Linked DNA regions of Homo sapiens. The protein of the gene in region 4 purifies or fractionates together with the protein of the main gene of each other region. This does not show direct contact. Each region holds a gene or a part of one and is shown on either strand. Other genes may lie near its edges. The genes, in order: ALDH1B1, HNRNPH3, IPO5, HEXB, FH, RPL22 and HK1.

What was found.
Region 1: the proteins of HEXB (region 4) and ALDH1B1 purify together in Homo sapiens (affinity purification with mass spectrometry; 2 studies listed by BioGRID, with this or other methods). This does not show direct contact.
Region 2: the proteins of HEXB (region 4) and HNRNPH3 purify together in Homo sapiens (affinity purification with mass spectrometry; 2 studies listed by BioGRID, with this or other methods). This does not show direct contact.
Region 3: the proteins of HEXB (region 4) and IPO5 purify together in Homo sapiens (affinity purification with mass spectrometry; 2 studies listed by BioGRID, with this or other methods). This does not show direct contact.
Region 5: the proteins of HEXB (region 4) and FH purify together in Homo sapiens (affinity purification with mass spectrometry; 2 studies listed by BioGRID, with this or other methods). This does not show direct contact.
Region 6: the proteins of HEXB (region 4) and RPL22 purify together in Homo sapiens (affinity purification with mass spectrometry; 2 studies listed by BioGRID, with this or other methods). This does not show direct contact.
Region 7: the proteins of HEXB (region 4) and HK1 purify together in Homo sapiens (affinity purification with mass spectrometry; 2 studies listed by BioGRID, with this or other methods). This does not show direct contact.

What each region holds. Positions count from the first base shown.
Region 1 is NC_000009.12:38,391,507-38,395,501, reverse strand, and holds the start of ALDH1B1 (aldehyde dehydrogenase X, mitochondrial precursor), read right to left. Parts: upstream 2,801-3,995; 5' UTR 2,695-2,800; exon of another isoform or gene 1,069-2,694; coding exon of another isoform or gene 937-1,068; intron 1-936. UniProt on the Homo sapiens protein: ALDHs play a major role in the detoxification of alcohol-derived acetaldehyde. They are involved in the metabolism of corticosteroids, biogenic amines, neurotransmitters, and lipid peroxidation.
Region 2 is NC_000010.11:68,335,064-68,338,563, reverse strand, and holds part of HNRNPH3 (heterogeneous nuclear ribonucleoprotein H3), read right to left. Parts: intron 1,366-3,500; 5' UTR 1,343-1,365; coding exon 1,231-1,342; intron 707-1,230; coding exon 568-706; intron 62-567; coding exon 1-61.
Region 3 is NC_000013.11:98,012,675-98,016,174, reverse strand, and holds part of IPO5 (importin-5), read right to left. Parts: intron 2,134-3,500; coding exon 1,961-2,133; intron 646-1,960; coding exon 534-645; intron 450-533; coding exon 394-449; intron 1-393. UniProt on the Homo sapiens protein: Functions in nuclear protein import as nuclear transport receptor. Serves as receptor for nuclear localization signals (NLS) in cargo substrates.
Region 4 is NC_000005.10:74,695,233-74,698,732, reverse strand, and holds part of HEXB (beta-hexosaminidase subunit beta isoform 1 preproprotein), read right to left. Parts: intron 2,041-3,500; coding exon 1,994-2,040; intron 1,738-1,993; coding exon 1,627-1,737; intron 1-1,626. UniProt on the Homo sapiens protein: Hydrolyzes the non-reducing end N-acetyl-D-hexosamine and/or sulfated N-acetyl-D-hexosamine of glycoconjugates, such as the oligosaccharide moieties from proteins and neutral glycolipids, or from certain mucopolysaccharides.
Region 5 is NC_000001.11:241,502,756-241,506,255, forward strand, and holds part of FH (fumarate hydratase, mitochondrial), read right to left. Parts: intron 3,414-3,500; coding exon 3,248-3,413; intron 1,491-3,247; coding exon 1,287-1,490; intron 1-1,286. UniProt on the Homo sapiens protein: Catalyzes the reversible stereospecific interconversion of fumarate to L-malate. Experiments in other species have demonstrated that specific isoforms of this protein act in defined pathways and favor one direction over the other.
Region 6 is NC_000001.11:6,193,096-6,196,595, forward strand, and holds part of RPL22 (large ribosomal subunit protein eL22), read right to left. Parts: intron 1-3,500.
Region 7 is NC_000010.11:69,381,347-69,384,846, reverse strand, and holds part of HK1 (hexokinase-1), read right to left. Parts: intron 2,361-3,500; coding exon 2,056-2,360; intron 515-2,055; coding exon 366-514; intron 52-365; coding exon 1-51. UniProt on the Homo sapiens protein: Catalyzes the phosphorylation of various hexoses, such as D-glucose, D-glucosamine, D-fructose, D-mannose and 2-deoxy-D-glucose, to hexose 6-phosphate (D-glucose 6-phosphate, D-glucosamine 6-phosphate, D-fructose 6-phosphate, D-mannose 6-phosphate and 2-deoxy-D-glucose 6-phosphate, respectively).

The DNA.
Region 1 (3,995 bases), on a different chromosome or scaffold from region 4:
AGGCCTTCCCTGACCACCCTTTAAAAAATTGCAACCCTTCCCACCCCAACACTCTCTATCCCCGCTACCCTGCTTTACTCCTTCTCTATCTCACATCCCAAATACTATCTTTACAGGCTTATATGTTTGTCTGTCTCCCCCCAGTAAAATGCAAGCTCCATGAGCACAGGAACTTATTTTTCTGTTCCATTCACTGCTACGTCCCCGAGCCTAGAGGTATGCCTGCTACAGAGCAGCGGCTCAACACACAGTACTGAATGATACACTGAGAAAACACTGAAATTGCCACAAAGGCTGTCTAAGAATTGACCTAAGACTTGAGTAGAAATCAAAGGGACTTGGAGATGGTTGTTCTCTGAGAGGGACTTGCTTCATTTCACCTCTGTGCCTCAGTTCCCCCATATGTGAAATGCCTCATGGGGTTATGTTGAATGATGTCTTGCATATAAAAACCCTGGCAAGCTCCACTCAGGACATCAGAACTGGCCGTGCCTCAGAAATTGACCTAGCCCAGCATCCCCCAACCACAGGTCTCAGCATCCCTTTTCAGCTTTCCCAGAGGTGCAGCAAGTCAGGAGGCAGCTGAGAAGAAAAGCTACAACTCTGAAGAGTGTAGACTTCGTTAAAACAACTACTGTTATAAAACTTAAACGGCATATAATACATATTAAATGAAAATTAAACAGAGTGTAGTGTTCCCAGATTAGTTGAAGCAGTTATTCTTCAGTCAGAATTTGAATCTCTCTGCCTTTGATGTCTCATGAGTCTTGCTCCGCCCAGCGGTAAAATGGAATTGCACCTGCCTGTCCCTTCACCCCCAGCCTCTCACCCTCCACCCCTGGGCAGGGAGAGGAACAAAAAACTCAATCAGGAAAGCAAGGCTCCATGTAGGTCCCCGGCCCCATAAAAATCAATGTGATGGGCGTGGTGGCTTACGCTGGTAACGCTTTGGTAGGCCGAAGTGGAAGGACTGCTTGAGGCCAGGAGTTTGAGACCAGCCTGAGCACATAGCAAGAACCGTGTCTCTACAAAAAAACAAAAATAAATTTGCCGAGCATAGTGGTGCATGCCTGTAGTTCTAGCTGCTTGGGAGGCTGAGGTGGGGGCAATCACCTGAGCCCAGGAGGTTGAGGCTGCAGTGAGCCATGATTGTGCCACTGCACTCCAGCCTGGGTAACAGAACAAGACTGTATCTAAAAAAAATAATAATAATCAATGCTGACCAAGAAAGTTTCCCTTCCCCTTGCGGGTGTTAGGAATAATGCTCAAAATCCTAAGGAAATTGAACACTCGAACACAGGATTCTTAGCAAAGCAATTTTACTTCTGCGCAGAGGGATGCCTCCTTGGCCAGTTGCCATGAGAGCACACCTGAACAAAGGGGCACGAGAGCCTTTATTCCTGATGCAAGTCCTGCCCCTGTACCCTTTCCCCATTGGCTGGGGTCAGGTCGTACAATCTAAACTAATCCCGGTTGGCTAAACATTTGATTTATTTTAGATAGAGTGGGCACGTAAAAGAAAGTGGAGAGAAAGGGGAAAGGGTGTCTGTAATGAGCTAGAAAGTTAGTCTTCTTTCCAAATAAGCAAAGGAATGTGAGCTGGTACTGATAACGCTTGGTACTGTGGCATGCCTGGGCATCTAACAAAGGCAAAAAGGAGAAAAATGAAAAAAAAAAAGGGGGGGATACTAAGAATTAAAGAATAAAAGATTGATCAGATTATTTGAAGAGAAACCTCATCATATCCCACAGGGGGAAGCTGAGTCAGCAGATCTGCCAGGGGTGCCCAGGGTTCCATTTAGCTCAGGACTTTGCCATATGCTGGGACACAGCCCCCTTGCCACCAACAGGCCTGGCTCTGAGGGTGAGGAGACCAAAAGGAGGTAGGGGAAAGGGGAGTCACCAACCCATGGGGTAAGGATTGGAGGGGTGAAGCAGTCAGGAGAGGTGGTCATAGGCCAAGGCTGGCAAACCTTTGCAGCCACACCAAGGCCGTTCCTACTCTTGGGGCCTATATGGGGTTCTTGCTGGGGCCTCCACTTGCTGATAGGAAGATCACAGCTCACAGAGCATCATGCTTTACAGTTTGCAGGCTGTCTTCTCACGGGAAATTTGCCAAGCCTCTCTGCAGTCCCTGGGTGGTCAGGGTTGATGATGACCCCCATTCTGGAAGAAGGCTGGGCATCAGAGAGGTTCAGGGACTCACCGAGGACACACAGCAAGAAAGTATAGGAGCCTCACCCCAGACTTCCACAAACCTAGCTTTGCATATCCTCCTGAATACAGGCAATTTTTTACAGTTCACCCACAGCGGGAAGGACCGGACCTTCTCTATCCGCGGGAACTGCAGCGGCGCCCACCTCACCCCTTCTGCGGGGGAAAGGGCGCAACCTTTGGGCTTGTCCAAGCCTCTGGGCTATGGTCAGGGGCCCTCTGTTGAAGTGGGCCGAGTGGGCAGGAGTGTTGAGGTCGAGCTAACGTGGTAAGGTCTGGGGGCGTCTGTGTCCTCGGGGCTCCTGTAGCGTCACCCAGAGGCGGGGGATGGGATTAGGGGACGTGGAGAGAGTCCTACAGTGCAACGGCGGAAAGGCCAGCCCCCAGATGCGGACGCCGCGGCCCAGAGAGGAAAGCCCCCACGCGGAGCCAGGAGCTGCGGCTTCCCGAGGGAGCCGAGGGGAGACCAGCGTTAGTTACCTGCAGCAGGCTCGGGCTCCGGTTCAGGATCACGCTTGGGTTCTGGTTCCGGCCCTCCCAGCTCTGTCCACATGGCCGCCCAGGGCTGGCCGCAGGTCCCGCCTCCGCGCAGCCCGGGGCTCAGCGGCCAATGAGGCTCCGCCTGCGCCTGGGGCGCTGCCTACGTCCTGTCGCCGGCCAAGGCCGCTCCTCCCTCGCCCCGCCCGGTCTTTCCCGGTCCCCGCCCCTCTACCCCCGGCAGCCCGCACCGCTTCAGCGCTCCCTCCCTCGGGTCTCCGCAAGCCCAGTGTCCACGTTGCTCAGATCTAGGCTCCTAAGGCACTGGTTTGGGAGCGGAAACAGAGATACCCAGAGAGGGGCAGGGGCTTCCCCAGGTCACACAGCAAAGTTTTCGGAGACCGAACCCCAACTACACTTTGCATTTCTCCCCGCTGCAAGACGCTGCTTAATCGACTGCCATCCTTGAGACTCCCCTTAACCCCTTCTCTGCCTCGCCTCTCCCTCACTTTTTTTGTCCAGGATTCACTAATTTCTGTCCTCCACTTTCACTGCTCCTTTCTTCAGTTCCTTCAAGAAGATTTTATATTTGGGCATTTTTCAAAGTACATTTTTGTCCTAAGGACAAAAAGAATGTATGCACAGTGTAGAAAGCTTGGAAAACACAGGAAAGGATGAAAAAAGAAGAAAAATATCACCTGTAATCTCTTCACCTACGGTAGCCATTATTACGGTGTTCGTCCTGCTAGTATTGTTTCCTCTGCATCTTTCAAAATTATTTTAATAAAAATAAAATCATATAGTAACCTCTGTTGTGCTGCTTTAAAAAAAATTTAAAAACTTAGCGCTGTATTTTGAAGTTTTCTCCTATCACTAATTACAGATGACATCATCCTCTCCAAGGTGGCATAGAATTCTGTTGTAGGGGTAAACTGTTGGACATTTAATTGTCTCCATTTTGTTGCTATAAAGGTTGCCAAGATGGACCACTGAACATGCATCTCACTCGCTCCACCCTCGCTGCACCTTCCTTCTGGCTAGGGAGGTCCCAAAGCTAACCGCCATGTTTCCCAGCCTCATTTGCAGTTAGAGTTCTGGATGTGGACTAGGTGCTGCCAATTAGTAGTACTCTGCCGGATGTGGAAGGCGGGCACGCATTGGAGGGTATTGTCCTGCCCCTGTAGGGTGGCACTAGCAGGATAGCAGAAATGGGAGATGTTCTGCGGCAGCATTCCTTGTCCCTTCTCCAGCTTTCTGGCTGTGGACCGGCCGCTGTGGCTGTAGCCGCTCCTTGACCTGGCTTC
Region 2 (3,500 bases), on a different chromosome or scaffold from region 4:
TCTTGGTGGATCATAAAATCCTTTGATTTCACTCCTGCTACTTCTGAAGATCTCAATATACCTATTTAAAAATGTTTTAAGGTACAGGTTTCAGCATAAATGTATTAGTGTAAATTAGATACTGGGCAAAATGCAGTAAGTTTTTCTATATCTAGATACATAACCCAATTTAAATTGCCTAAATACACCGTAAGTTAACAGTTTAAACCTACAAACTTAATTAAATATTTAAGTTTTACAAAGAAATTAGTCACGGAAAACAATTCATAAAGTATATTTTTACTTTGTCTCTTTTAGTACATAATAGGTGTTTTAAAGGAAATAGGTGATTATACAAAAGCATTTATCAACAACATCCTACAGAGAAATGGAAACAATCTAATTTTAATTTAACTATTAGCATTAATTCCCCACCCAAATCTGTAGTTTCCAAGTTAAATTTAGATAATTATCAATTCTTTTAAACTACCCCAGAAAAATGTTATGGCTACCCCCCCATTTAAGCAATAGTGACCCACAACCCCCAAAAATAAAAATTTAACACCATCCCAAACTCTCCATCCCCACCTGTGCCCTATTCTTTCCTTGTGTTTCCCCAGAGCATTTTCTGCTATCTCCTTTGAAGCAAACTGCACGAAGGCCTCCCCTGTGCTTCTCCCCTGGTAGTCCATCGTCAATGTTATCCCATTTGGCACGATTTCCAACCCTTTAACCCAAGGACAAATAACCCCATCAAGGGGAACAGTGTTAAAGGCTGAAACATTCCCATCTGAATCAAATATTTAAAACAAGTCTAAACAAAACAAAACAAAACAAAAAAGCTTAGTTTCCCATCACCCCATAATACAAATGAAAGATTTTTTCAAATATTACTGGATTAAATAAATTTTTTGCGACCAGTGTAAAAACACTGTGTAATTACACACTCTAAAAGCCCACCTATATTACATGAAAAAAGGCTACAAAATCAAATATATGCTCCATATACTAATTCACGGTTCATTTCATCACAATTCTCAAATATGTTACTGCACATTAACTAGGTTTTACATATTCTACACATTCTGTATTGAATATTAACTGGAGCATATTATTTTAATACATTAACCAAGACTATCATAGTTAAACTTAAAAGTTCCAAAATCAAATGGGTTTTACAAATTAAAAACAGTAAAACAATACAAATATAAAATTACAATACTACTAAACTTTGACTAATACTAGAGGTACCTTGAAAGAACTGAACTATTTCCTCTTTGCTGCAACCAAATGGTAGTCCACGAAGTCGTACTGTCCCATCACTAGCGTCATTTGGACCATTATGTTTCATAACCCAATCCATCTCAATACCGTTTGATTTAAATGCTATAAAAAATAAACAAGCACATAGAGCAGTCAATCAAAATATACTCTTGTCAAGAGGTAATGAAGAAACACCTCTCAGAGGTGCCACAAGAGGAAATGTAACATGGGGCCAACTGCTGTGACAATGCCACAACAAAATTGTAGACCACCTTTCATATTTTGGGGTACGGAAAAGGCAATGAGACCTGACCCCCTCCTACGGAAAAGTACTGAATTTCGTAGTATCAATATTATATATTGCCTAATTTTAAGAAAACTTGCATAATTCTACTACCAGAGTCTTCAAACTATTTGTGTCCCCTGAATGCCAACTCTAGCCTTTCCTTATCTCTCAAATTTTCATTCACCACTTTTCAGGTTTTTATTCAACTGATTATTCAAATTCTTTAAAACTTATTCAGAAGTTGCATATAATACCAGTATCCACTAACATCAAGAGCCTAAGTAAAAAAATGCAATGAGTACTGATTGACGTTGGACAAATATCACAGAAGTCTAACCCTTTTAAATGCACTACAATTTTGAACACATCAAACTGTCTTTGAAGGGCCAACACTCCCACCTCTATTTTAGCCAAATCTAGTTTAAACTCACCAAGAGCAAGATTATAAAATGACTGAATTAATCAGATTAAAACTGAGGTCAAAGGCCACTCAAAAGTGAATGCCTTCCAACAGTACCTGTGTTTTTGAAGCCACTGGAGACAGTGTTTAGAAACCAGTTTACTCAAATTTTTAATCAAATAGATTTAAACAAACTTTAATAGGTAATATACTTTTTAATAAAGCATAAAAGGTACATCTAGAAGCCCCCCTTCCCCTCCAAAATAACCTCAGTTCCCAGTTCCCTTCCCCAGAGGCAACCATCCTTCCTTTTAAAATTCCATAATATTTACAAAAGAGGTGAATGCAGAAGTCCTTCAGCTGCAGAAACTTACCAGAACCTTACAAATCTCACTATGCAGCTGTAGGAATCCTACTCACCTGAGTATTTCAAACCTTTCCCTCACCACCTCCTCCCCTGTAAACAAAGTTTGTTCATTTGATTCCTTTATGTTTGAAGATCATATTTCGTATCAACAGCATTCACTAATGCTTAATTTCATGTCATCTATTTGTTGGTGCATCTCTTAGGGGTGGCATCTGCAAAGGGTAAAATATTTTTCCCTAGAATTCATGCACTTAAAATAAGCTAATGTAGAAATTCTCTGGAAGTAGTTAAGTACCTCTAGTGTCAATCACCTTCAGCCCTAGGTGCCACTCTAGACATAGAAAACCAAAATGGGAATACAAACTTTTAACTGACATTACAACTACTTGTTATGCACACAAATAAATATTATGAATGTTCTGGGTCTGAATCCCTACTCTGCCACTCACTGGCTACCTGAACCACTTTACCTCTGAGCCTCTTCAATTGTAAACTATAGCAGTTGTACCTGTACCTCACTGGACTATTCAAGTGCTTGGTCTGCCTCATGGTAAGCATTTACTGATGGCAATTGTTACTGGACTTTAAGGGGCCCTGCAAAAGCCAGTGAGCTATACCATACACAAAATATGTGAACCCTGAAGGACAGAAAACAATTCAAGCCTTGAAAAGAACTGAGAATTATTAAAAATTTTATTTCCCAAAGCCAGCAAAGGCTTTTATAAGTTTAATACTATTCTAAAGAGTAGCTCTGAGAGGAGGCGGCCCCAATCCAGTTTGGGAAAAAAAAAAAGTTCAGAGATGTTTTGAAAATGCCTACCGTTTTATTTATTTTTTTTAAATAGCACCAACCTAAAAAACAAGTGTTTCCCATAAACGGTGATTTACACAGAACGGAAAAAGTGGTACAGATCTACCCTCACTGCTTCATGAAAAATTGAAGAACTCTGCAAATTCGACCTTAATCTGTTGTGAGAGGATCTTAGTGGTACGATTTGCATTTAAGGAGCAAATGCTTAAAAAAAAAAAAAAAGAAAAGAAAAAGAAAAATTAATTTACCCATAAATCTTAGCAATTCACAGGAAAAAATTACTAGCAAGCCAATTGGATTTTTGGATCAGTCTGTACCAATGATAAGACCCAATGAAAACAAAAAAAGTGTTATCAGTGTTATCTGTAAGAAACACTAAACTGTTAACACAATT
Region 3 (3,500 bases), on a different chromosome or scaffold from region 4:
ACTAAGTAACATGGTGAAAAAGGCCCCAGACCGTCAACAGTGTGACTCTAGGCAATCATTTAACACTGGAATTTTAGGTTACTCATCTTTAATATAGTGAAAGCACCACAAAATACAAATGGTTGTTGTGAGCAGTATGTAAATGAACTAGGTAAACCTCAAGGTGTTTTGTTGAGTGAGGTATTACAACAAAATGCACATAGCACCGAAAGACATATCAGTTTAATTTCAAATTACTTATTCATAAATTAAGAGAGGAAATATATCTGACTCCTCTGCTAAAGACTGATAATTACATCAGAATGACAAGTCACATAAATCAGAAATTGAGGCATTTACAAGTCTTTCAGATGCAAGTGGTCACGTAAGTAAGTTCCAAAGGGAATAACTTACCTCATCTTGTAGTGACTCTTCGACCTGTTCATCATAGTCTTCATCTTGTCTTTTAACTAAAACACACCCAAATAAATGTTTTAAATGATTGCCAAGATGGTCAAGGATTATATTCAGAAATAAAAGCATGGAAAACTTACCTTGTCGTAATTCTTGATTTTTAAAATGTTCTTCAAGCTTTGCTTTCAATATACCTCCCAGTTCTTCAAAGTGTTCATTATTAAGGCATCCATCTCCCATTACTTCAATGCACTAATGAGGTTGAGGAAAGAAAGCAATCCATAAGATTTGGGGTGTTTGGAGTCCAAAGTTAAACTCCACTAAGAATCATATGGAAAAATGAACACAGTTCAGTATCCTGGAAGATTATTTACATATGCTTAGCTTGTATTTGTTAGAATGACAGCATTTTAGAGATTGGAGTTAGAAAAAAATATTTTCTTTTGAACACTACTGAGCATACCTAGGTGCCAGGCATCATGCTTGGTACTGAGGATTCAAAGATGGAAAACACACACACACACACACACACACACACAACCAGCTCCTAAGGAACACAATTGCTATATCCATACTCCGTACACACAACATACAAGAACACTGAAGGAAGGGCATTAGAGGTAGAAGAAATAAAATATAGGCAAAGGTATGGAAGCATGCTGTCTTTGGAAAATCAGAAGCAATTCTGAATTACAGGAGTGTAAATAAGGACATATAAAGATGCTGAGAAACTGTAAATCTTCAATCAAGATTGGAGCAAACTAGAGTTGTGCAAAATGGGAGTGACACTGTATGAGAAAGGAAGTGACTCAATGAAGAGGAAGGCAGTGCTTGAGGAAAGGAGAATGAACTGAGAGGAAAAGAAAGGAGACATCTGGAGTAGCCCAAGTGAGGCTATTTCAATGGCATGAAAAAGAGATGGGGCAATGAAAAAAAAAAAAAAGAGAAGAATTGAGGAAAGTGTAAAGAACAGAAACTGGAGATGATACCCAAGCTTCTATAGTTGGATTATTAAGTGCAAGACTAAAATACTAGAGTATTCAGAATTTCTTCTCTTTTTCCAAAGAATGCATGCTTCCATGCTGCTGCCCATATCATTCCCTCTACCTATACTGCCCTTCCAAGGCAAATTTACCCTCTTTAAAACAAACATAATAATACCAAAATATTAAAACAAAAAATTTAACATTTTTATTTTTTAACAAATCATACACTATAGCATATAAAAATTTATTTAGCTGCCTTACATCTGCAATCCCAGCACTCTGGGAGGCCGAGGTGGATCACCTGAGGCCAGGAGTTTGAGACCTGAGGAACATCTACTAAAAATACAAAAAGTAGCCAGGTGTGGTGGTGCATGCCTATAATCCCAACTACTTGGAAGGATGAGGCATGAGAATTGCTTGAACCCAGGAGGTGGAGGTTGCAGTGAGCTGCGATTGCGCCACTGCACTCCAGCCTGGGTGACAGAGCAATACCCTGTCTCAAATTTTTTTTTTTTACTTTTAGCAAGACTAATAAATGAACATACAACCTTATACATATTTTTTAAGAGAAAAATATTCACCTTTGCAAAAGAATGCATTATTTCTGAGAGGACGTCTGAATCTGGTTCTGTACCAATGGCCTTAATTAGAGCATCACACATAAAATGCCACATCTGTGTGAGATACTCAGGACCACGGACTCTTGCACACTCCAGGAGAAGAGGCATGGATTCCGCTGCTGCCACTCGAACACGTTTCATTGTTAAGGAACCTCAAAAGACTGTTTATTATTTTGCTTAAATGTTAAAGGGTTCAATGCACTAAAAGGAGTGCTAGGCAACTTCTGTTTATCTAAGATACCCAAGAGCTTGTGTTAAATATAAAGCATGTATAAAAATAGAAAAGACATACCTCCTGTCTCCTCTGTCACCTGTAATAGTGGCAGGAATGAGTCCAGCAGCAGTGAAGGGCTGCCTATTGCTCAAATGTAAACCAAAATACAAAAATGACTATGGAAGGACCCATGACCATTAGCATGCCTTAAGCTGTACCTACCTCAAAACCTTAGGTACTATCTGTTTCTAATAAAAGCAACTGAAGTATTTCCCTGAAAAAGACCACCGAGGACCTCTTCCTATGCTGGCCTTTTCAGTTTTTAATAAAGATTAAATTGCCTTTCCCTATCTAATCTCATTTATAAAATAAGGTCTTGATAACTTCCTCTTAAAAGCAATCCCGCTTTGTCCTCTGGCATCCTGGGAAGTTAAGTCTTTGTTGGGTAAAAGCTGTCTTCTGTAAAGGATACCACTATAGGATACCGTAAAAGGAATGATGACAAACGGGCTTTGGAGTCAGACAGATCTGGGTTTGTGTCTGTCTACCACTCTCGTGTGTAAAGGCATAAAAATGTACTGGAAAATATTAATTACGGCTATCATTATGTTGAGAAAGATATTGGAACGCAGATGTGGGTGGATCACCTGAGGTCAGGAGTTCGAGACCTGCCTGGCCAACGTGGTGAAAGCCCGTCTCTACTTAAAAACAAAAACAAACAAACAAAAAATACAAAAAATTAGCTGGGCATGGTAGCGCATGTCTGTGATCCCAGCTGCTCAGGAGGCTGAGGCAGAAGAATCGCTTGAACTTGGGAGGTGGAGGTTGCAGTGAGCTAAGATCGTGCCATGCACTCTAGCCTGGGCAACAGAGTGAGACCCTGTGTCAAAAAAGAATGCAGATGTGCCAAGTGATGTTTCCCCGCAAAGGTGCTATCCACATTTGAAATGTAGGGTTCTCACTGCTACAGAAAGCTGACCATCTATCAGTGGTTCTCTAATCTATTAAGACAGGTCTTGCCAGGCACAGTGCTCAGGTGTGTAATCCCATAACTTTGTGGGGCCAAGGCAGGAGGACTGCTTGAGCCCAGGAGTTTGAGACCAGCCTGGGCAACATAGGCAGACCTTATCTCTTAAAAAAAAAAAAAAAAAAAAAAAAAATCAAATCTAGCTGGGCTTGGTGTTGTGCACCTGGGTCCCAGCTACTTGGGAAGTTGTGGTTTCAGTGCGTCCTGATCACGCCACTGCACTCCAGCCTAGGTGACAGAGTGAGACACCATCTCTTAAA
Region 4 (3,500 bases):
GAAAAAATTCAGAGTATTAATGTAAATGTAAAAATAATTTTTAGGCCAGGCGTGGTGGCTCACACCTGTAATCCCAGCACTTTGGGAGGCTGAGGCAGGCGGATCACAAGGTCAGGAGATTGAGAACATCCTGGCTAACATGGTGAAACCCTGTCTCTACTAAAAATACAAAAATTAGCTGGGTGTGGTGGTGTGCACCTGTAATCCCAGCTACTCGGGAGGCCGAGGCAGGAGAATTGCTTGAATCCGGGAGGCGGAGGTTGCAGTGAGCCAAGATTGCACCACTGCCCTCCAGCCTGGCGACAGAGCAAGACTTCAACTAAAAAGAAAAAAAAATAATAATAATAATAATAATTTTTGGCTGGGCACGGTGGCTCACACCTGCAATCCCAGCACTTTGGGAGGCCAAGGCAGGTGGATCACCTGAGGTCAGGAGTTCGAGACCAGCCTCAACATGGAGAAACCCCGTCTCTACTAAAAATGCAAAATTAGCTGGGCGTGGTGGTGCATGCCTGTAGTCCCAGCTACTCAGGAGGCTGAGGCAGGAGAATTGCTTGAACCTGTCAGGCAGAGGTTGCAGTGAGCCGAGATCGCGCCATTGCACTCCAGCCTGGGCAACAAGAGCGAAACTCCGTTTCAAAATAAATAAATAAATAATAATAATAATAATTTTTAAATAGCATAGTTTCATCATAATGATCAAGTGAAGGTGCAAAAAAACATGGGAGGAAACCTCCCCACCCCTACAAATTGGCAGGTGATGGTGGGGATTAACCAATAAAAAAAAGCCCATAGGAGAAAACAGTTATTGTCAACCTTCTTCCTAACCCATACCACCCCTGAGGTTCCATATTCCTTTGGAATAGTTCCCTAGGTATAAAGGAGCTCCCGGACTCCTTTCTAATGCCACTTACAAAAAAAGTAAGAGGTGGTCACAAAATTTAAATGGCACTAACTAGAAGTATGGTGTGGTGGCCACGTATTCCTTTTTTTTTTTTTTTTTTTGAGACAGAGTCTTGCTCTGTCGCCCAGGCTGGAGTGCGGTGGTGCGATCTCGGCTCACTGCAACCTCCACCCGGGGAGGGTTCAAGCAATTCTCCTGTCTCAGCCTCCCTAGTAGCTGGGATTACAGGCGCACGCTACCACGCCTGGCTAATTTTTGTATTTTTAGTAGAGATGGGGTTTGGCCATGTTGGCCAGGCTGGTCTCGAACTCCTGACCTCAGGTGATCCACCTGCCTCAGCCTCCCAAAGTGTTGGGATTACAAGTGTAAGCCACCGCACCTGGGTGGCCATGTATTCCTAATCAAAAGTCTAGACACATGATTTGACAAATGGGAGTATATGTAAAGGGCCAATGGGCAGTGTTTAAACTGTCCTTCTCTTAACAGTCTTGGCTAAATACATGTTATACGTGGCTCTCGCACTGAAAACAGGAGGGTGATTCTCAAGGGGACCTCCACGTCACAGCTGAGGAAATACACTTCCCTAGGAACTGAGGAAAGAATGCCCAGTGCTTATACAAATTCCCCTGTTCCAAACTACACAATAGTAACCAACATAAAGTTACAACATAAAGGAGACATCTTCAGAATAGACAACAGATTAGAATGAAGTAATTACTTACCAGAGTTTTAAGAATAATCTTAACTGGCAGATAATGTCTGGATGTATCAATCAAAATTCCTCTGTGAGAAAACCTTGGAGAATCAATAATGGTGGATTCATTGATGGTGAACTATGACAAAATAAAATTTTGATTTAGTTTTAGAATTTTCTGTTGTCTTGAACTCAATGAAGACTAAATCTATTTATACAAGCATTTCATAAAATATTAATTTAGAACAACAAAAATGTATGAAATTTACATTTACCGGCTAAGACAAATATCTGGGGAAATGAAATCTTCAGGAAGCAATAGCTAAACAGGTTACATTTTTTTCTATTAGCAATTTGTCTAACAATTTTTAGTAACATATAATAATCATACTTACAGTTCCATAAGAATCTTGATAAACTAACTGGCTAAAGGTCTCTAAACCTGAGGAAAGTAAAATTTATTGCATTAATTTATAAATCAACAAATTGAGATGATAAAAGTTATATTATTCAAACAGACTCATAACCAGGTAAGGCAAATATAATTGAATATAGTGTTATACCTCTATCCTCTAAAATATATTGTTATACCTACACCCTCTACCATAATTTCTAAAATCAAAGCCAAATTAAAAAAAAATCCATTGCACTTCTCTACTCATCTAATAAAAGTGCTTTACTTCATTGTACCCATACCCTGGGGGTTGTTTCAATATAGACAAAAGAAGAATAGTAATTTAATAAAATACTGGTTCCTTAATAAATTTATGGCATCATGAGAAAGAATTTTTATAATCAAATATAGTCACTTTTAGAAGGTATCTAAATGCAACAGGGAAAAATGGCTGGAAAAACCATGAAACTATAAATAAAGGCCAATTTACAATATACAGCATTTTACTTATAGCTGCAAAGACTACCTTCTGAACATTTTTTACTCAAGTGGATTATTCCCTTAATATACTAGTTGACAGGCTAATTCTTCTAACTGGCCTTGACTTTATTCAGATTCCTCATTCTAGCTGACAGCTATATAGCCAGGGAATTTTTAACCTAAGAACAGTTCAGTCATCTTTGCTACGCCTTCCTGTCTCTCCAACCTCGTCAAGTACAGGTTCATGCTGGGAAGAATAACTCTGAAAGTTTCTGTTAAGTGACATTACGTTCAATAATGATCAGTTTAGAGTACATTACTCTGAAAGTCTGATGGTAAACAGAAAATATGGACTTCTTGGACTAGAAATCTAGTCACTGCATACTCGCAAGAGTGGTTTTATCTTTTTTTTTTTTTTTTTAGACGGAGTCTTGCTCTGTCACCCAGGACGGAGTGCAGTGGCGCGATCTCGGCTCATTGTAACCTCCACCTCCCGGGTTCAAGTACTTCTCCTGCCTCAGCCTCCCAAGTAGCTGGGACTACAAGCGTGCACCACCATGCCCGGCTAATTTTTGTATTTTTAGTAGAGATGGGATTTCACTGTGTTGACCAGGCTGGTCTCCAACTCCTGACCTCAAGTGATCCACCCACCTCGGCCTCCCAAAGTGCTGGGATTACAGGCGTGAGCCACCGTGCCCAGCCTTGCTAGAGTTCTTTATTTTGGTATGGATCAGAACAAACATCAATAAGCGTCTCTTGGCTGGGCGCAGTGGCTCACGCCTGTAATCCCAGCACTTTGGGAGGCCAAGGCAGGTGGATCACGAGGTCAGGAGATCGAGACCATCCTGGCTAACACAGTGAAACCCTGTCTCTACTAAAAATACAAAAAATTAGCCAGGCGTGGTGGCAGGCGCCTGTAGTACCAGCTACTCGGGAGGCTGAGGCAGGAGAATGGCATGAACCCATGAGGCGGAGCTTGCAGTGAGCTGAGATTTCACCACTGCACTCCAGCCTGGGCAACAGAGCAA
Region 5 (3,500 bases), on a different chromosome or scaffold from region 4:
AAGGCTAACGAGTAGCCACAACTACACATTAAATATAGTTCTCCACCTTCATGATTTTCATTCATTCTATACATATTTATGGAGCCAGGCACTCAATATACAACACTGAATAAGAAAGATGCAGGCCCTGCCCTCGCAGAACTTGGAGGCTAGGGAGAAAGAGCTGGCAATTATAAGGGGTAAATACAGAGTAGTGTATGCTGCTATCAGAACACTTATAAAAGCGACCCTTCACTAACACATGGGAGGCTTCCTAGGGGAAGGTGATGCTAAGCTAAAATTTTCCTATTTATCACGAGTCTCTGGAACCCCACTACCCTGCTCACACTCCTTGGACAAGCTCCAAGTTTGAATCAAACAACCCAGATTCCTCTGACCAGTACAAGTTAACACACTGGAAAGATTATTGGGTGGATTATTGCCTTTATCTGTGACTCCCCCAGTTCTCTTTCTTTTGGCAATCACCCTGGATTTGCAATCAACTAAACCTTTATGTCATTCTTCAACATGAAGTACTTTAAAACAAAATTTCATCTCTTCTTATTCTACAGATCCATAATTTCCATAAAAATCTAGAGTCAGGCCTTTCTCACTATTAAAAGTTACATTGTCAGTTTTAGCCCAAGCTACAGTGGCCTTTATGGATCTCAGTTCTGTCATCCATAGTATTGCTATCCCAACTTTGTTAACTGTTAATATGATTAGCATGTATTCTCTTCCTTCACCCTCAGTCACCAGTAAAGTGTTGAAGGGCAGAGCCCTTCAGCTTGTTACCAATATATTCTTCTAGACTGAAGTCACTTCATTAGTCACTTCTGAAATGTCACTGTTCACCCAGCTACATTCATCTGCCAGCACTGCCCACGCTTCTCCACTGGAATCAATGACTATCATGCGAATCTATCAAATGACTTGCTGAAATCCAGACATACACTGTTGTGTCACTTGCTATATCTAACAGGCATATAACGGAATGCAAAAAATGAAATAAGTGAAGTTTGGTATGACTTCTTTTTATTCAACCCGCGCTGATCACTTTAACAGCCTGCTCTACATTTTCTAATGTGGGATTCGAAATACTTGCTGCTAAGTCAGATTCTTTCTTCCTATCTTGTCAGGTGACGTGCCCAGCAGTCCTGACCAGAGGACCACAGACATGCTGGAACAGTGCGCCTTGCGCATCCAGCTGCGGGATAACTTTAAACAAAGAGAGACATGGTCCATAGCTAAGAATGCCTAGGACCTAGTCAAGTTTTAGCTCCAACATTTACTAGCTATGTGATTACCTGGCATGATACTGCTTCCTGGTTCATTTTCAGGCAAGATCAATTCTCCCAGACCTGACCGAGGACCAGAACCCAAAAATCGAATATCATTTGCTATCTTCATCAGACTGCAGGCAGTAGTGTTCATGGCTCCACTGAGCTCAACCAGAGCGTCATGAGCAGCCAGAGCTTCAAATTTATTCGGAGCAGTGACAAAAGGCAAGCCTAAAGAAAAGAAAAATATCCTAGATGGGTGAACAAGTTAAACTAAACATTTTTCTACCATTAGCAAGTGAAACAGAAAGTTCCAATATACGAAAAAATAAAAATTTTACTTCAGAAAAAAATGTTTACTTAAGACTCAAATTTTGTCTACATTTTTAAAAGAAGTCCTAAAGGAGTAGAAAGAATCTGGTATTACATTTTTTAAGTTTTTTCAGACAGGGTCTCACTCTGCTGCCCAGGCTGGAGTGCAGTGTGGCTCAATCACAGCTCACTGTAGCCTCAACCTCCATGGCTCAGGCAATCCTCCCACCTCAGCCTCCAGAGTAGCTAAGACTACAGGTGCACACCACCACGCCCAGCTAATTCTTTAATTTTTAGTAGAGATGGGGTTTCGCCATGTTGCCCAGGCTGGTCTCAAACTCCTAGGCTCTAGCGATCCACCCACCTTGGTCTCCTGAAGTGCTGGAATTACAGGAGTGTAATTCCACTGTGCTTAGCCAGGCACTACATTTTAAAAAGATGAAATAACAAGTATGATAAATGTACTGAAAGAAAAAACACAATCCTACTGCAAACACACGTATATGATGCCTGACTATGCTTGAGTAAAAAGTATATGGGAATTCATTCTGGTTTATACCACACTCCTTTCCTAATACCTTTTTTCTTTTTTTTTTTTTTGAGACAGAGTCTTGCTTTTTTAGCCAGGCTGGAGGGCAGTGGTACGATCTTGGCTCATTGCAACCTCCTCCTCCAGGGTTCCAGCAATTCTCCTGCCTCAGCCTCCCAAGTAGCTGGGGTTACAGGCGCCCGCCACCATGCCCGGCTAATTTTTTTAAATTTTTACTAGAGACAGGGTTTCGCCATGTTGACCAGGCTGGTCTCGAACTCCTGACCTCAAGTGATCTGCCCATCTTGGCCTCCCAAAGTGCTAGGATTACAGGTGTGAGCCCCCATGTCCGGCCCCTAATACAATTTTTTAAAGTTTCTTTGTCCACTTTACTGTGCTTCATCCTCTCCCCTAGCCAGGAGCCCACAAGATCCCCTATAAAAACAGTGTGCTAAAATGAGTTAGATGTTCTCAGTTAACCCCCATGTTAAAAATTTTATAAATCTACATTTGCCAAACCCTAAAAGTAGAGTTCTTTTCTATTAAAATATGGTTTAAAGACAAATCAGCTGGTAAGCTATCATGTGCAGTGTATAATTATCTCTACCCTAACCGTCTGGTAACATCTACATCTTAATGAGAGTTTTCTGAAGATGACAACTTGGCCCTAATAATAGTTATCATTATCTAAAGTATAATACTCTCTCTACTAAAGGAAAGACATGGTTCAAAAAGGTCAATAATTCAAAGAATTATCACAGCATGACATAATAGGAAAAAAAAGAAATTAAGTCTGTCTACAACATATTTACTATTCAAATAACTTACTCAACACTCAGTTTTTTCTGCCTATTTTGAAAACTGCTATTCAAAACTTTAAAGGGAAATTAATTGAAAACTAACTAGTAAACAAAGCTAACACTGGTAGATTTTAATGGCATGCTGTATAAACTCCTACATGGAACATTTTTTAAAAGGCAAATAATTAACATTATAACTTCAGAAATATACTTAAAACACATGTTTGATGGAAAAATATCATTTCTAACTTTAAATTCACAAGAATTCAAGACAGGAACACTCAGAAAATGTACAGACCACGTATAATGAGAAATGAAAATGAGAAATAATTCACGTGATCACTAACCTGTAAGTGCAGCCACTTTTGCAGCAACCTTTTCTGCAAAGCCAATTCTAGTATTTAAACCTGTACCAACAGCAGTGCCTCCAGCTGCGAGCTCATAGATTCTTGGCATGGCAGCTTTTATTCTTGTCATTGCATATTTTACTTGTTGAACATAACCACTAAATTCCTGAAAAGAAAAGAAAATTAAGGTAAGAATAAGTAATTCCTAATAGCTTACAAGTTACTCTAACTGCATTAAATAGAAATTTTTAAA
Region 6 (3,500 bases), on a different chromosome or scaffold from region 4:
TCTGTCTCAACAGAATATTTTATCTGTCTCCCAACACTGAACTAATATCATTTTTTGTTTTGGTTTTGGAGACAGAGTCTCACCAGCGCAATCACAGCTCACTGCAGTCTCAACCTCCCAAGCTCAAGTCTCGACCTCCCAGACTCAAGTGATCCTCCCACCTCAGCCTCTCAAAGTGCTAGGATTACGGGCATGAGCCATCCCACCTGGCCCCAGCTGACTTTACAATTTTTTTTTTTTTTTTTTGAGATGGAGTTTAGCTCTTGTTGCCCAGGCTGGAGTGCAATGGCGCGATCTCGGCTCACTGCAACCTCCGCCTCCCAGGTTCAAGTGATTCTCCTGCTCCGCCTCCCAAGTAGCTGGGATTACAGGCATTCGCCACCAGGCCCAGCTAATTTTGTATTTTTAGTAGAGACGGGGTTTCTCCACGTTGGTCATGCTGGTCTCCAACTCCCGACTTCAGGTGATTCGTCCACCTCTGCCTCCCAAAGTGCTGGGATTACAGGCGTGAGCCACTGCGCCTGGCTTAACATTTTTAAGAGAAGGGGTCTCTCTATGTTGGCTAGATTGGTCTCAAATTCCTGGGCTCAAGTGATCCTCCCACCTCAGCCTCCCAAAGCGTGGGGATTACAGGTGTGAGCCAGCATACCTGGCCCTAATATCGGTTTCTTAAATGTTCAGTCTTTTTTAAAAATGGTAACAAATCCCATTTACATACATACTATGAGACAACATCCCAGTGTAAACGTACTTGACTACTTCCACACAAGGCCGACTGGGCCTCGCCACGAAAGGCTTAGAAGGACAACACTAGACAGGAAACCCAAGGCCAGACTTTTACAAGATACGCCTGTAATCCCAGCACTTTGAGAGGCTGAGGTGGGTGGATCTCCTGAGCTCAGGAATTTGAGACCAGGCTAGGCAACATGGCGAAACCCTCTCTCTACAAAAAATACAAATATTAGCCGGGTGTGGTGGCATGTGCCTGTAGTCCCAGCTACTCAGGAGGCTGAGACAGGAGAATCCCTTGAGCCCAGGAGGCGGAGGTTGCAGTGAGCCGAGATCACACCACTGCACTCCAGCCTGGGGGACAGAGAGACCCTGTCTCAAAAAATAAATAAATAAAACAAACTTTTACAAGGTACATGCAACCAAAGCTAAAAGCAACTTCTGAATCTAAGGAGTATAAAACACTGTTCACAGCACTATCAGAAAATAAGCCTTCAACCTAGTAGAAAGAGCAAAGACATAGGGACTGAAACAATTCTAGACCTGGTCCAGGGCCATGTGTGGTACAGCAGAAGCAGCAGCCACTCAGGAGCCTGAGATATTCTCTGCAAACTACTGTGTGGGCCTCAGCAAGACATTCACCTCCTTGTGCTTCAGAAAGCTTTGCCCAAAAAGGACCTTTTTAGTTGTTTTCTTGCTATGGCAATGACATGAAGTCCCTTTCAGCTCAAAATTCCTATAATTTTCTGTTTAAAAACTCCAATACAAAATATGTTAACTGGCTGGGTGCAGTAGCTCACACCTGTAATCCCGGCACTTTGGGAAGCCAAGGCAGGAAGATTGCTCAAGCCCAGGAGTTCAAGACGAGCCTGGGCAACTTAGGAAGACCCTTCCTCTACAAAAAAATTTAAAAATTAGCTAGGTATGGTGGTGCATGCCTGTGGTGCCAGCTATTCCAGAGGCTGAGGTGGGAGGATCACTTGGGCCTATGAGGTTGAGGCTGCAGTGAGCCAGGATCATGCTACTGCCCTCCAGCCTGGACAACAGACCCTTTCTCAAAAAATAAAAATTTGGGAGACTGAGGTGGGCAGATCACGAGGTCAGGAGATCGAGACCATCCTGGCTAACATGGTGAAACCCTGTTTCTACTAAAAATACAGAAAATTAGCCAGGCGTGGTGGCGGGCGCCTGTTTCCCAGCTACTTGGGAGGCTGAGGCAGGAGAATGGCATGAACACGGTAGGCGGAGCTTACAGTGAGCCAAGATCGTGCCACTGCATTCCAGCCTGGGCAACAGAGCAAGACTCCGTCTCAAAATAAATAAATAAATAAAAATTTGGGGCCAGGCGCGGTGGCTCACGCCTGTAATCCCAACACTTTGGGAGCCCGAGGCAGGCGGATCACAAAGGCAGGAGATTGAGACCATCCTGGCTAACACGGTGAAACTCTGTCTCTACTAAAAATACAAAAAATTAGCCGGGCATAGTGACAGACACCTGTAGTCCCAGCTATTCGGGAGGCTGAGGCAGGAGAATGGCATGAACATGGGAGGCGGAGCTTGCAGTGAGCCGAGATCACACCACTGCACTCCAGCCTGGGTGACAAAGAGCAAGACTCCGTCTCAAAAAAAAAAAAAAAAAATTTGGCTGGGCACAGCGGTTCATGCTTGTAATCCCGATACTTTGGGAGGCCGAGGCTGGCAAATCACCTGAGGTCAGGAGTTCAAGACCAACCTGGCCAACATGGTGAAGCGCCGTCTCTACCACAAAAATACACAAATTAGGTGGGCATGGTGGCACACGCCTGTAATCTCAGCTACTCGGGAGGCTGAGAAAGAGAATCACTTAAACCTGGAAGGTGGAGGTTGCAGTGAGCCAAGATCACACCATTGCACTCCAGCCTGGGTGACAGAGTGAGATTCCACCTCAAAAATAAATAAATAAAAATAAAATAAAATGGCCAGGCGCAGTGGCTCATGCCTGTAATCCCAGCACTTTGGGAGGCCGAGGTGGGTGGATCACCTAAAGTCAGGGGTTCGAGACCAGCCTGACCAACATGGAGGAACCCCATCTCTACTAATAATACAAAAATTAGCCAGGCGTGGTGGCAGGCGCCTATAATCCCAGCTACTCGGGAGGCTGAGACACCAGAATGGCTTGAACCAGGGAAACGGAGATTGTGGTGAGCCGAGACTGCACCATTGCACTCCAGCCTGGGCAACAAGAGCAAAACTTGGTCTCAAAAAACAAAGTAAATAAAATAAAATAAACAAAAAGTATACATTAACCATAGATGGGGCACAGAGTGATTAGGTCAGAAATCTTGAATTCTGCATCTCAAGATTCATAAATGACTTAAGTTTTCTATCCTAAGGAGGCTTCCAGAAGGAAAGACAATCACACAAACAGATGAGTGGGCTGAGGGAATGGCTCAGAGGGAGGGAGGCAGGAATAATGCCAGAACAGGGCCACCATGTGAATACCAAACTGGAAGACACCAAAGTTGAAAAAGAGGAGGCCACAGAAAAGCCAGAAGTCACTGGATAGAGAAAGAACTAAGGAAATAGGGGATTTCTTGAAGGACACAGATGCAAACAGCATCTACATAAAGGCAATAAACTATAAGAGGTTACCTAAATTCCATTCTGGATAATTCGTGACCATAATTATTTTGTGTTTAAAAATTATTTTTGTTGTAATGATACTGATCCTGGCAATAGTTCAACCTTCTGGAGAATTTAGAGCAAATGCAAATTTAGGAGACTTCTACACA
Region 7 (3,500 bases), on a different chromosome or scaffold from region 4:
CCCCATGTAGTCCAAGAAGTCAGAGATGCAGGAGACAATGTGATCAAACAGCTGCAGGGGAAAAGAAAGGATCGCCCGTGCTCTCTGTGGTTTTAATTTTATCAGTGCACATGGACCAAAGTGTGTATACACACACACACGTAGGAAAACACACCCCACACACATGCAGAGTGAGCCTCCTTTTCCAGAATCTTCTCAGCCACCAGAGTGTCACAAGCCAGGCATGGCAAAAAGCATCTGGTGCTTCTGGGCCACAAGGACACAAATCCATGTGGGCACCCCGTGGCGGATTTTGGTCATCACGTGACTGCCGGTGCCACTGGCCGTGTGTGCAGTGCACATGCACTATGGTTTTGTAATCTCACCTCTTCCCCAGTGCCCTGCATGATTTCAATAGGAATGGCGTAGATCTTGTTGTGCATTTCCACCGTTCTCTTTTTCCCACTACGGATTTTCACCAGCAGCACACGGAAATTGGTTCCTCCAAGATCCAGGGCCAAGAAGTCACCATTCTCTGTTGCAGTCAAAAGCGTAAAGAATGTCAAAAACAGCTAAGTGCCTCTTGGCAGCCAGTAACCCCAAGACTCCAGACTTTCAAGGGGAGAACCCCATAGCAAACATAGAGGAGAAGCTGCAACTCCTCCCTTTAGGACACAGCACAGACTCAGAGGAAGAGTGGGCACCACATCTCTGACCACCACAGACTTGGAGCCACACTGGGAGGAGAGCATGTGAGTAAACCACCTGTCACAATACACAGACTTCACCAGGGCTGCAACAATGAAAATCTCCTACAAAAAATAATAATTTATGTCAAGGTGTGGGGTATTTGCAAAAACAGCTGCATCATTCCCTTCCCTGCATGTGCAAAATCCTTCTTTGCAACATGACTGCAGTTCCTCCCACTGAAACATGGAGTCAATTTCTCCTCCCCTGGGATCTAGCCCAGCCCTAGGATTGTTCAGGCCAACAGAGTGTGGCAGAGGCAAAGCTGAACCTATCCCCAGCCTGGGCTTCCAGGAGGCTTTGAAGTCTTCCCCTCTCCCTCGCAGCCCTTGCTGCCACCACTTGAACAGCCAGGTGGCCCACTGAAGGATGAGACACAGGGCCAGGGGCCCCTGCACCCCAGCTGACAGCCAACTGCTGGACATGTGGGGAAGGGCGTCTGAGATCTGCCTCCCAGCTGACTCAACAGCTGACTGCAGATGCAGGAATGAGGCCGGCAGAGGTCAGCCAATCCTGGCCCTGATGAGCAGAACTGTCCAACTGACCCACAGATGCATGAACAATAATAAAGCGTGGTTGTTTTAAGCCACTAAGTGTGAGGGTGGCTTATAATGTGGTATTAGGTAACTTACACATAGGACACATTCCTGTCACAAACATTCGTTACTCCAAGGACCCACCTGAAAAGCTCTTCAGATTCCCCATAATGATCAGCTCCAGTGAAAACTACCAAGGTTAGCATAAAGGGTTGGATTTTGTTCTACAATTTGCCTGAATGCGAAACTCCCCAGGCCCTGAATGCCTCATGCATACTCTATCAAGATTTAAGAAGGGTACACTGAGTGTTTATCCTTCTGCTGGCTTTCCTTGGCTTTGGGAAAACCTAATCAGTGCTGTGGGATTTGCCCAGCTTTTAAGAACACTTCTTTTTTATTCATTTAATTTTTTTTGAGACAGGGTCTTGCTATGTTGCCCAGACTGGTCTTGAACTCCTGGGCTCAAGCAGTCCTCCCACCTCAGCCTCTTAAGTAGCTGGATGACAGGCGTGTGTCACCTTGCCCAGCTAAGAGCACTGTTCTGAGCAGGGCTGTGGTTTTAGAGATAGCACTTGCCTGGGAGGTCTGACCAGGAAAATTAAACTGCCCTGAGTCACACACATGACAAATCAGTTAATAAAAATGGAAAACAGAGATGTGAGGGAGTTTCTAGCTCTGGCAAAATCGTGCATCACCAGTGTGAAGGCATCCACTGGCGAATCCAACCTCCCCCACTGCGGCTCAGTTCCTGGCAGGAGCAGGACAGGCATGTCAGCCCCCAGCAGGCCCTCACCGGTCCCGTCGGGAGTTCTCCGGACGAAGGAGGGCAGCATCTTAACCACGGCATTGTTGTGCGTCTGCTTCCTCAGCCCCAGCTCCATCTCGGCCCGCATCCTCTTCTTCACCTCCAGCAGCATGTCCTTGGTGAGGTGGAAATGAGCCAGGGTCTCCTCTATCTGCCGGTGCTGCTCGGCCAAGCGGTAGGCCACCGCCGTCACCATGGCAGCCCCCTTGCCGCTGCCACTCTCCGAGAGGAGGAAGCGCACATCGGAGTCTGGCACCAAGCGCCTTAGAGTCTTGTGGAAACGCCGGGAATACCTTATGGGGGCAGGGGGGACATTCCACAACAGCTGGACTGAGCATTTATTGGGGACCTCCGGCCACCCTTTCTTTCTCCACTCTTTAACTCTTTTTTCTTTTCCTTTTTTTTGAGACAGGGTCTTGCTCTGTCACCCAGGCTGGAGTGCAATGGCACAATCACAGCTCACTGCTGCCTCAACCTCCCAGGTTCAGGTGATCCTCCCACCTTAGCCTCCCGAGTAGCTGGGGCCACGCCCGGCTAACTTTTTTGTATTTTTAGTAGAGACAGGGTTTCGCCATGTTGCCCAGGCTGGTCTCAAACTTCTAGGTTCAAGCTATCCACCCGCCTCAGCTTCCCAAGTGCTGGGATTACAGGCATGGGCCACTGTGCCCAGCCTAATTCCATTTTCTGCACCTGCTTTTTTCATTACACAAATCATATACATCCACTGTAGAAAAGTTAGCAAATGCAGAGAGGTAAAAAGGAAAAATGAAATCGTTCATAATCACACATAAAAAGAGAAGACTCTCATTATTACATGAGTATCACATACAAAAAATTCCAGGTCTAAAAAGATTTTGCCCTCCACCATGACAGGAAGATAATACAGCACAGTGGTCAAAAGCACGGTGTTCAAAAGTCAGATGGGGCCAAGTGCGAGGTGGCTCATGCCTGTAATCCCAGTACTTTGGGAGGCCAAGGCAGGTGGATCACCTGAGGTCAGGAGTTCAAGACCAGTCTGGCCAACATGGTGAAACCCCGTCTCTACTAAAAATACAAAAATTAGCTGGGTATGGTGGCAGATGCCTGTAATTCCAGCTACTCGGGAGGCTGAGGCAGGAGAATTGCTGGAACCTGGGAGGCAGAGGTTGCAGTGAGCTGAGAGCACACCACTCCGCTCCACTCCAGCCTGGGCAACAGGGCAAGACCCTGCCTTCAAAAAAAAAAAAAAAAAAAGGTTAAGATGATATACTTCATGTTATGTGTATTTTACCACAATCTAAAAAAATTCTAATGTGATGCTGCAAATCCCTAGGCTTTCTTGTCCAAAAAATTAGCCAAGAAATTACAAAGAAAAAAGAAAGAAATGGCTAATAAAAGTTTCATTATCAAGATTTTTGCAAATACTTTAAAAATATTTTAAAAATACAATTACG